Regions from separate parts of the Homo sapiens genome. Here regions 1 and 3 are each linked to region 2. The links come from fine-mapping of genetic effects on gene expression. A gene starts in region 2. Each other region holds a variant in brackets. All regions are shown on one strand. Distances are between the middles of the regions.

Region 1 (2,657 bases), 44 kb after region 2:
GTGGTTTGCTTTATTATTAACACCCCTCTCACATAATAACATTCTTTTCTGTGATTACTTCCTGTCTCCCATATTATATGATTGTTTGCATAAAGGTACATGTTGAAGCTTAGTGGGTGCCCACATTTATTTACGGAATGGGTGAATTCATAAGGCTCTGCAGGGGTTTGTGAGAACCTGATTACTTGGAAGGGGTAGCAAAAAAGGGTACAGGCGGCTAGAGCAGATGGTTAGGTCCCTAGCAATCTTGAGAGTCTGTCCATTTTGTGTAATTGATTCAGGCCTTATTCATCACTGTTATTCTTTTTTCTTATTCAGGGTCTACAAAACTACCTATTAATGATACTTGCATTTTGCATCATCTTGACTGGAGCCTTATGCACTGCTTTTTCTAAAATCTAACAATGACAAAACCAGCAGGTGGCAGCAGTAGTTAAGAGAACGCGTCTATCGGACAGCGGAGAGATCATGCTGAGAAAAGAGTGCATTTTCATATAGCAAATGGATCTCAGCCACTGTTGGAGTGGGTAAATGATTTTTTTCCCCAAAAATGTGAGAATGAAGGAAGATTGAGTTTCATTCAAGTATAAAAATGAAAATTTCTTCTGATGAACTGTTTATGAAGGTAGTACTTTACTGGGTGACTAAAATGTCTACATTATTATAGCATTACATACGAGGATGCTCTTTTTACCACAGTATGTACCTAGTGTTGCATAATCTAGAACACAGTATAGAGTCCATATACAAAGAAGTTACAGTCCATATTTCTCACCTATTACCCCAGTGAAGTGAGGCAGAAATACCTTGGGCGAGGAGGGAGAGCCTTACCTTCTAATGGAATTAGATTCCAAAGATATTTGGATCCTTTGTTTCATAAAGTAAATGCATAGTTGGTAACTAAATGTTAAAAAGGCCATTTTATTATTGTTAGCCAAAACTTCTGTTTATTTCAAGTTAATATCGCCCAACTCTACATCATCTACCCATTTTAGCTCATAATGCTTTTGATTATCGCCAGATAAAGTCCATTCTCAGAGAACAAAAATTTTTCATCATTGAGAAAATGTGCATAACATAATACATACATACACAAGTATATTCACGTACATAAATACACACAGATATGTTGCTAAAGTGAGATTGTAGGTTATCAGTAACAATTTAAAGGAAACAACCACTCTTTTGAATGTACAA[C/T]TTTTTTTTCTGAAATACACTTTTCTAAAACCCTCTTAACTGGAGGTTTCCTGTTTTCTTCTTGTTTTAACTGGTGGTTTCCAGTAGGCAAAATAAAATGACAGGCATGCTAGTTTTTTTTTTTTTTTTTTTTTTTTAAGAAAACTGAAATTAAGCCAGGCAGGGTGGCGCACTACTATAATCCCAGCTGCTGGGGCGGCTGAAGTAGGAGGGTCACTTAGCCCAAGAGTGCAAATCTGCCAGCCTAGGCAACATAGCAAGGTCCCATCTCTAAAAAAGAAATTTAATTTAAATTTGTAAGAAAAAAGAAAACTGAAACAGAACTGCCAGTACAATGTTTGTTGCAATTGTTTCCAAAACTTTGAGATAACGAAACCCCTATTCAAATGTAAATTTTACCCATTCCCACCTGATAGTACTGTTTATTACTTTGCTATGCAGGAGAAACAAAACAGCTTTTTATTTGTGTGTATACTCTGAAGTCAATGTGCATGGGTTAAATCCCACCTCTGCTTCATTTTATTTGTGTGGCTTTGGACAAGTTCCTAAGCCCTCTGTGTCAGGCCCCTCATTAACAAAATGGAGTTTATGATGGCATCTACCTCACATGGTTATTGTGTGGTTGAAATTAGTTCAAATCTGTAAAGTATGTTGATGAGTATCTGGTACTTGGCAAACACTATATAATTGTTAGCTTTATTATTATGTGTTGTTTGAAGGGGAAAAAAGTTTTTGTAGATTGGAGAACACCATGTAAGAGCTACTAAGCTCACCACCTTCCCATCCAAACAATTATTACTCCTCTAAATGAATACTACTTAAAAGTGATGGAGCTTCTGTTTGTTTATTGAATTGCTAATACAAATAAATATTTGACTATAACTTCTTATACTCATTTTAATTTTAACCTGAAATGTCATTAAATTATGCTGATAAACTTTGAATAAATTGTGATACAAAAGCTATTTTTCTCATTTAAATATATTTTAGAATTTTATATTGGATAACTTTTAATTATTCTTTAGTTGGGATTTCCAATTTATATGCAAAATTTTAAATGTGAAGTAAAGCAGTTTCAGAAGAAAAATGAAAAATCAGTCTTATTACCTCTATATAATTTATATATATCCCTATATATACTTTGTATATATATATACACACATTTATATATGTATATATATACACATTTATATATGTGTGTATATATATACACATTTATATATATGTGTGTGTATATATATATACACATTTATATATATGTGTGTGTGTGTGTGTGTGTGTGTGTGTGTGTGTGTGTGTGTATATATACACACACACACAGACCTCTATATAGTATATAGTTTCTGGTACCAAACAAGCTTTTTCAAAATGGTTACCAAAAAGCAACTTATTATTTAGAGGCTAGTCTAAATGGGCAGTTGCCAAATCTGCATTTTGTTTGCTCACCTTAGGAAGTGAAT
Region 2 (2,820 bases):
ATGCATGTTTGGATTTGCTCTGTGGCATAATGTAAAAGGCAATGGCCTAGCATATCCCTAATGAATCTTCTCAGGCCTAATTCAGCCCCCAACTCACTTTTAGACTTTAGAAATTCTCAGCAAATGCTGACACAAGCTTCAGTTTCTCCATGTGAGTGAAGCAAGAATAAACCACATGATCTTGTGACCATGAAGTGAAACAATTCTAGGTTGGATTTAGGCCCTATATTTTTGGAAGCAAGTTTGTGTATGTGTGTGTGTCTTAGGTGTGCATGTGTGGAAAGGGGAACTGATTTCTTCAAAATCTTTCTGAACTGCTAAATTAATCCTCTTCCTTAAGTGAAAAAGCTTTGCTGCTTTAATTCTTTAAATGAAATGTTATTTTGCCTTCCCATCTGCTCATCTGACATGATAGTCTATGGATGTGATTAATGTTTAAGGCAGAACTTCCTTCTAGGAAATGTCATATTTTAACAGTCCTTGTGTTTTCTCCTTCCTGTGAATGCTACACCCATTACCAACCACTGGATGGTCTCGGGTTAAATAGCACTTCCTCAGAGAAGGCTTCTTTGAACTCAGACTAGCACAGAACCTACACTTCCCCTTTCCAACTTAAAGTTTGCATCCTTTGGTGTATGCGAACCCACATGAAGAGATGTTTTTTTTGTTTTGTTTTTTTTTTGAGAGGACTCCCTCACTTTGGGAGGGCGAGGCGGGCGGATCACCTGAGGTCAGGAGATCGAGACCATCCTGGCTAACACGGTGAAACCCCGTCTCTACTAAAAATACAAAAAAATTAGCCAGGTGTGGTGGTGGGTGCCTGTAGTCCCAGCTACTCAGGAGGCTGAGGCAGGAGAATCGCTTGAACCCAGGAGGCGGAGGTTGCAGGGAGCCGAGATTGCACCACTGCACTCCAGCTTGGACGAGAGCGAGACTCCGTCTTAAAAAAAAAAAATACAGATAAATGGCCTGTACAGATAAATGGCTTAGGTGCATCTACAAAGAATTAGTGATTACAAGTGAAATCTTGTAATGTCACAAGAAATGTTAATGACGTCAGTGGTGCAGATGAATTTCTTAATACCAAGTGGAAAAATTCACTTGAGATAATCTTTTACAATGGTGTGAAATTCCTCAGACTTTTGTTTTATCCATAAACTGCACAAATAATACCTCCCTCTGTGACACTTAGAGAGGGTGACATGCTGAGAGTTTCCTGAATAATCACCTCTTGAAATACACAAAACTCTTCTAGTTTCCTGGTTGACCGACCCAGGGCTTGACGACTCCTTTTGAGCCACCTGACAATTCAGTCCAGCACAGCAACTGAAGGAAGGCGTTCCCCAACCTGCTGTCCTATGAAGGCCTCTAGGTCACCGGTGCTAAAGCCCTCCTTTCTCCACCCTCCTTAAGTGGAGGTAAACGTCCCAGCAGGAAGTCAAGGCTGGATTGGCGCTCTTCGCGAGCACCCTGGGAACGGGAGTCTGGGTCACGGGTGCTAGAGCCCTCCCCTCTCCTCCCGGCCGGTGTATGGGAAATTGTCCCCGCAGAAAGTAAAGGCTGGCCAGGCCGCCCCCAGCACGTAGAGGGAATGAGTCAGGCTCCGGCTCCACACTGGCACGTAGTGGGCGGATCGCGCCGGCGCTGAGTAGGAAGGAGCTTCAGCCGCCAGCCCGGAACGCAGTGAGTACAGCCACTCAAAGGAAAGCCAAGTCGCTTTGCAGGGGAGCGTCTCATGATTTTTCAGAAACGTGCTCATGGTTAAAAAGAAAAATCAAGGCTCGGAATAAATACATTCAAGCACTGTTAATTTTAGCCCAAAGACAGGCGGTACTTGCCTGGAGATTTGGGAAAATCAACATGAAACTAAAAATGAAATTTTAGTTGGAGTGGAGCAAGCAGTATTGATCAGAACATACCAAATACGAATTTTTTCAAAGTCTGCGTAGAAGTTTAAATTACTAGGAAAAATGTAAAGGAGAAGTATTTACTAATAAATGAAACAAAAGTAATAAAATAAAAATGAATTAATATAGTTTGACAAAATATCAGCGAACGCTGAAAAGAAAACATTAAAATAATGTTTGAGACTTTTTAGGTTTTGTGCAGGAAGAATTGGGAAAAATGTGCTGGATGGAGTGATACTGCTTTTCTTTTCCACAAAAATTTCATTATTTTAGAGAGCGGTAGAGCCTTTTTAAAGACAGTAAGTTATTGCCAATTCACAATGAAATAAGATCACATGCTCTGAAATGTACAAGAGCTGCATGCAATAAACTTCATTTATCTATAGGTAATAACTGATTGATGTTTATTCAGTAGTCGAAATGCACCTCATGCACTCTAATTAGCACGTCAAATTAGTCTCTCCGTTTCAGAGGTGTAGGGCCTTTGTGGAGCCTTCTCAATAAAATAATTTGCCACTCTTGAAGGTTAGACATTCTCTTCTATCAATGTACACATAAAGGTTTTGTTTTGCTTTGCTTGTTGTGAATTAAAATGGGGAGAAAATGATGTGTTAGCTATCACCCAGTCATGTGTCTTTTTAGTCATAGGTTAGCTTTTCAAGACACTTCCTGCATCTCTGACCTGTTGCACCTCTGTTATCTTGGCACCTCTGTTATCTTAGCAGCAAGCACCTGCCTCAGCTGACCCTTGAGCCATAACCCATGTAAGTCACTGCAGGGCTGAACCTCTCTTTGAGCCTAACAGTAGAATAATAATTATTTTTATTGAATAGTGTTAATGTGTCAATGTTGAAATGTGCCTCAGTGTGTCTTCCTCAACCACATCCCTATAGAGGATGTTTTCTTAATAGCA
Region 3 (2,820 bases), 200 kb before region 2:
CTGTCTCAGCCTCCCGCGGTGCTGGGACTACAGTCATGAGCCATCATGTCTGGCCTGCCAAGGTCTGTTTTGAGAAGAGTGAATATGGGGATCTTACACTGTGCAATATTTGAAATATCTAGAGGAAACATTATATAATGCAGTAGAAAATGCTTGAAAAAAACGTGAAGTATCTTGACAGCCCACTAAAAACACTGTATGATTTGTTTTGCCCTATATTGCAGTACTTCGGTGGCTTTAGCTGAATACGGTTCATCACAAGCCAACCTGTTAACATGCAGATGTGAACAAATGATCAAATAGAACTGAAGTTTATGGCCATTGCTTAACTCTTAGAGAATAAAAGGCAATAGCATTTCCCGATTATGAAGAATTCTACCTTTGTAAAAAATTAAACAAATGAAATTGTATCACTTATTTTCTAAAGGAATAAATTTAGAAAATATCACCTTTGGTCATAGTTGTCACCAGAACTGAATTTAAAATATTCATTCACTATCATTGCAGCCTGTACAGTCACTACAGTCTATGGTTTAAATATGGCCATTTTAAATTTGGGGGGTTTTGTTTTGATAATCACAAATAACTTTGATAAATGGTCAAATTTCACTTTTTTTATGTTTACCACATTTATTGGGTATTTTCCAATGTACCAATGCTGAGTCTTTTGGAACTGTCATTTGTAGCTGGTGCTTGTTTGACATGTGGAACCCAAAGACAGCAGAACTCTCTGTGGTCCCCATCCTAGTGCCCCCTCCCCACCCCTGCATCATTCCTGTGCCCCTCTAGGGGATGTGGCCAAGACTTTTGGAAGCCAGTGCCTTCCAGCTATAACAGTGTTGATATTCTGATATATTTACCAAGGCTCTAGTTTATACACAATCAGTTCTTCTCAAGTTGCCTCCTGCACTTATCAGTGGGACTGAAACACAACATAAAGACTACTGTCAATATTAAAGTTTTTGGCAAAGAGTGTGCACCTGAATCATCTTCTTTGTGCAGGGAGGTAGGATTAGGCACTGGGTTTGTCACAGAGCAAGCTGTTGTAAAGAAGTGAAGTGGATCCTGGAGATGGTTCTGTTGCAGTGGCAGTACAGTATCTCACCAGGTAGTGGCTGGAGTTGGCTCCAAGTCTCTGGCAGGGGAACACCTTGACACACGTCTGGGGTCGCTGGCACTCCCTTCCTCTCTGACTCCAGCCTTAAGGTGAAGAATTCCATGTAGCTTCTTGTCCTTTCCCCTCAGCTGTCTTTGCTTCACAAGGTTTTAGCCCAAATAAAGAGTACAAATCCCAAAGCCACATAGAAATGAACTTTCTGCTAACTGGAAGCTTTAAGTGAGTAAAGGTACTTTATAATGAAAAATGCATACATTTAGTTTAGGAAAACTGAGATGTTAACATGTACCTGGTGAAATAAGAAGAAAT[A/G]TCATCCTGATAATTCTCAAATTTTCTTCCCCTACAAGCACTGATCTCTAGCAAAGTGGGAAGAATATGTAAACTTCACTGTCATCATATAACATATTTCTGTTTATTAGGTGATTTTGTAGATAGTTTCAGTTTCATATTTAATATTATTTTATTTTCTGTTTATTTTTTAAATTAATTCTTGGCTCAATTTGGATCATGTGCTTTTAGAAAATTATTTTAATTATGATAGGAGACTTAAGTTGGTTATTTAGAGAGGACTCTGTTTGTTTACAGTTTTATGATCCTTCTCAAATGCTTTAAGAAACTGAAAGCCTGTAAAGCTTTCATGCATACTGTGAACTGCACACTTCAGTTCACAGAAGAGATTTAATTAGAATATGTTGATGATGAGCAGTCCATCTTTTTCATGTAGTATAATTTATTAGACATAAAGGTGGCATTATTTATACTGTTCAACCATACTTACATATATGCAAATATGAATTTAATTTGATTGTCTTGTTTAACCCTTGAAAAGCACTGAAGCCATCAATAGACAACCTTTAAGATGCTTCAGGGGAAGAGATACTTTTCCCAATAAATGTTATTGCCCTTCTGTCATTAGTAATTAGTATTTTAGCTTCATAGCTTGTTCTTTTGTCTAATATATTTCTGTAAATCTTTCATTCTCTAGCCAATCAATCAGAAGAAATTTTTAAGAGTTGATGGATGGTATGTGTGTGTGTGTGTTTTCACATAAATCAAAGTTGTACAGCAAGTTTGATTGTCATGCTGAGCTTGTCAAAATTAATCTAAGATTTATCATAAAGAAAAAAATGATTTTTTTCTGTTATATAGTTTGTGAGTTAACATAGAATGGTGGAGTAAGTAGCCTTTAGAATATACTTCCAATTCAATTAGTCCTAAGGTTTATATTACATTAAAGTAAAAATTCTCTGGACACAAACAAATATTAAGAATATATATAGTATTCTGAAAAATATGTTAATAAACTTCATTTTAATTTTATTAAATAGCACATTTTCTGTTACTTAATATTATTTAGAGAAGCAGGAGAATGAGAGCAATGAACACATGTCAGATGAGCAAGTAGAGAGGAAATTAAAGGACTAAAGGCATTGTTTCTGAAAATAAAAAAACCAGGCTATGGTCATACTGCCCTGAATGCGCCCAAACTCATCTGAAAACAAACAAACAAAAAAAAACAAACAAACTTTAAAACCAAATTTTAATATACGATAATAAAATTTAAAAAACAGAGAGAAAAAATCCATAATGTTCTCAATGGATGGTGAACAAAATGAAAACATGGTTTGATTTAGTTTGGTTTTTGTAAGAAAATGGAGTAAATTTTTCATCCAAACTCCAAATTCAATTTTGTTTAAATGTCT

Evidence for each region. PIP is the estimated chance that this variant, and not a neighbour inherited with it, causes the effect.
Region 1: its variant is fine-mapped to the expression of TMEM144 in lung (TOPMed, PIP above 0.99). The same link has a PIP of 0.9 or more in fibroblasts and nasal epithelium.
Region 3: its variant is fine-mapped to the expression of TMEM144 in whole blood (TOPMed, PIP above 0.99).

What each region holds. Positions count from the first base shown.
Region 1 is chr4:158,253,126-158,255,782 of GRCh38, forward strand. TMEM144 (transmembrane protein 144) reads left to right here. Exons shown (of 13, transcript NM_018342.5): 13 at 319-2,291. The coding sequence ends at 402. Among named protein-coding and RNA genes, the nearest start is that of TMEM144, 44 kb to the left of the region's middle. The variant C/T (reference allele first, on the strand shown) is at 1,198.
Region 2 is chr4:158,208,904-158,211,723 of GRCh38, forward strand. It overlaps TMEM144 (transmembrane protein 144), which reads left to right and starts at 1,583. Exons shown (of 13, transcript NM_018342.5): 1 at 1,583-1,683; 2 at 2,550-2,671. RefSeq lists enhancers at 971-1,525, 1,426-1,515.
Region 3 is chr4:158,010,546-158,013,365 of GRCh38, forward strand. All of the region lies in intron 1 of LOC105377509 (a long non-coding RNA gene), which reads right to left. Among named protein-coding and RNA genes, the nearest start is that of GASK1B-AS1, 160 kb to the right of the region's middle. The variant A/G (reference allele first, on the strand shown) is at 1,427.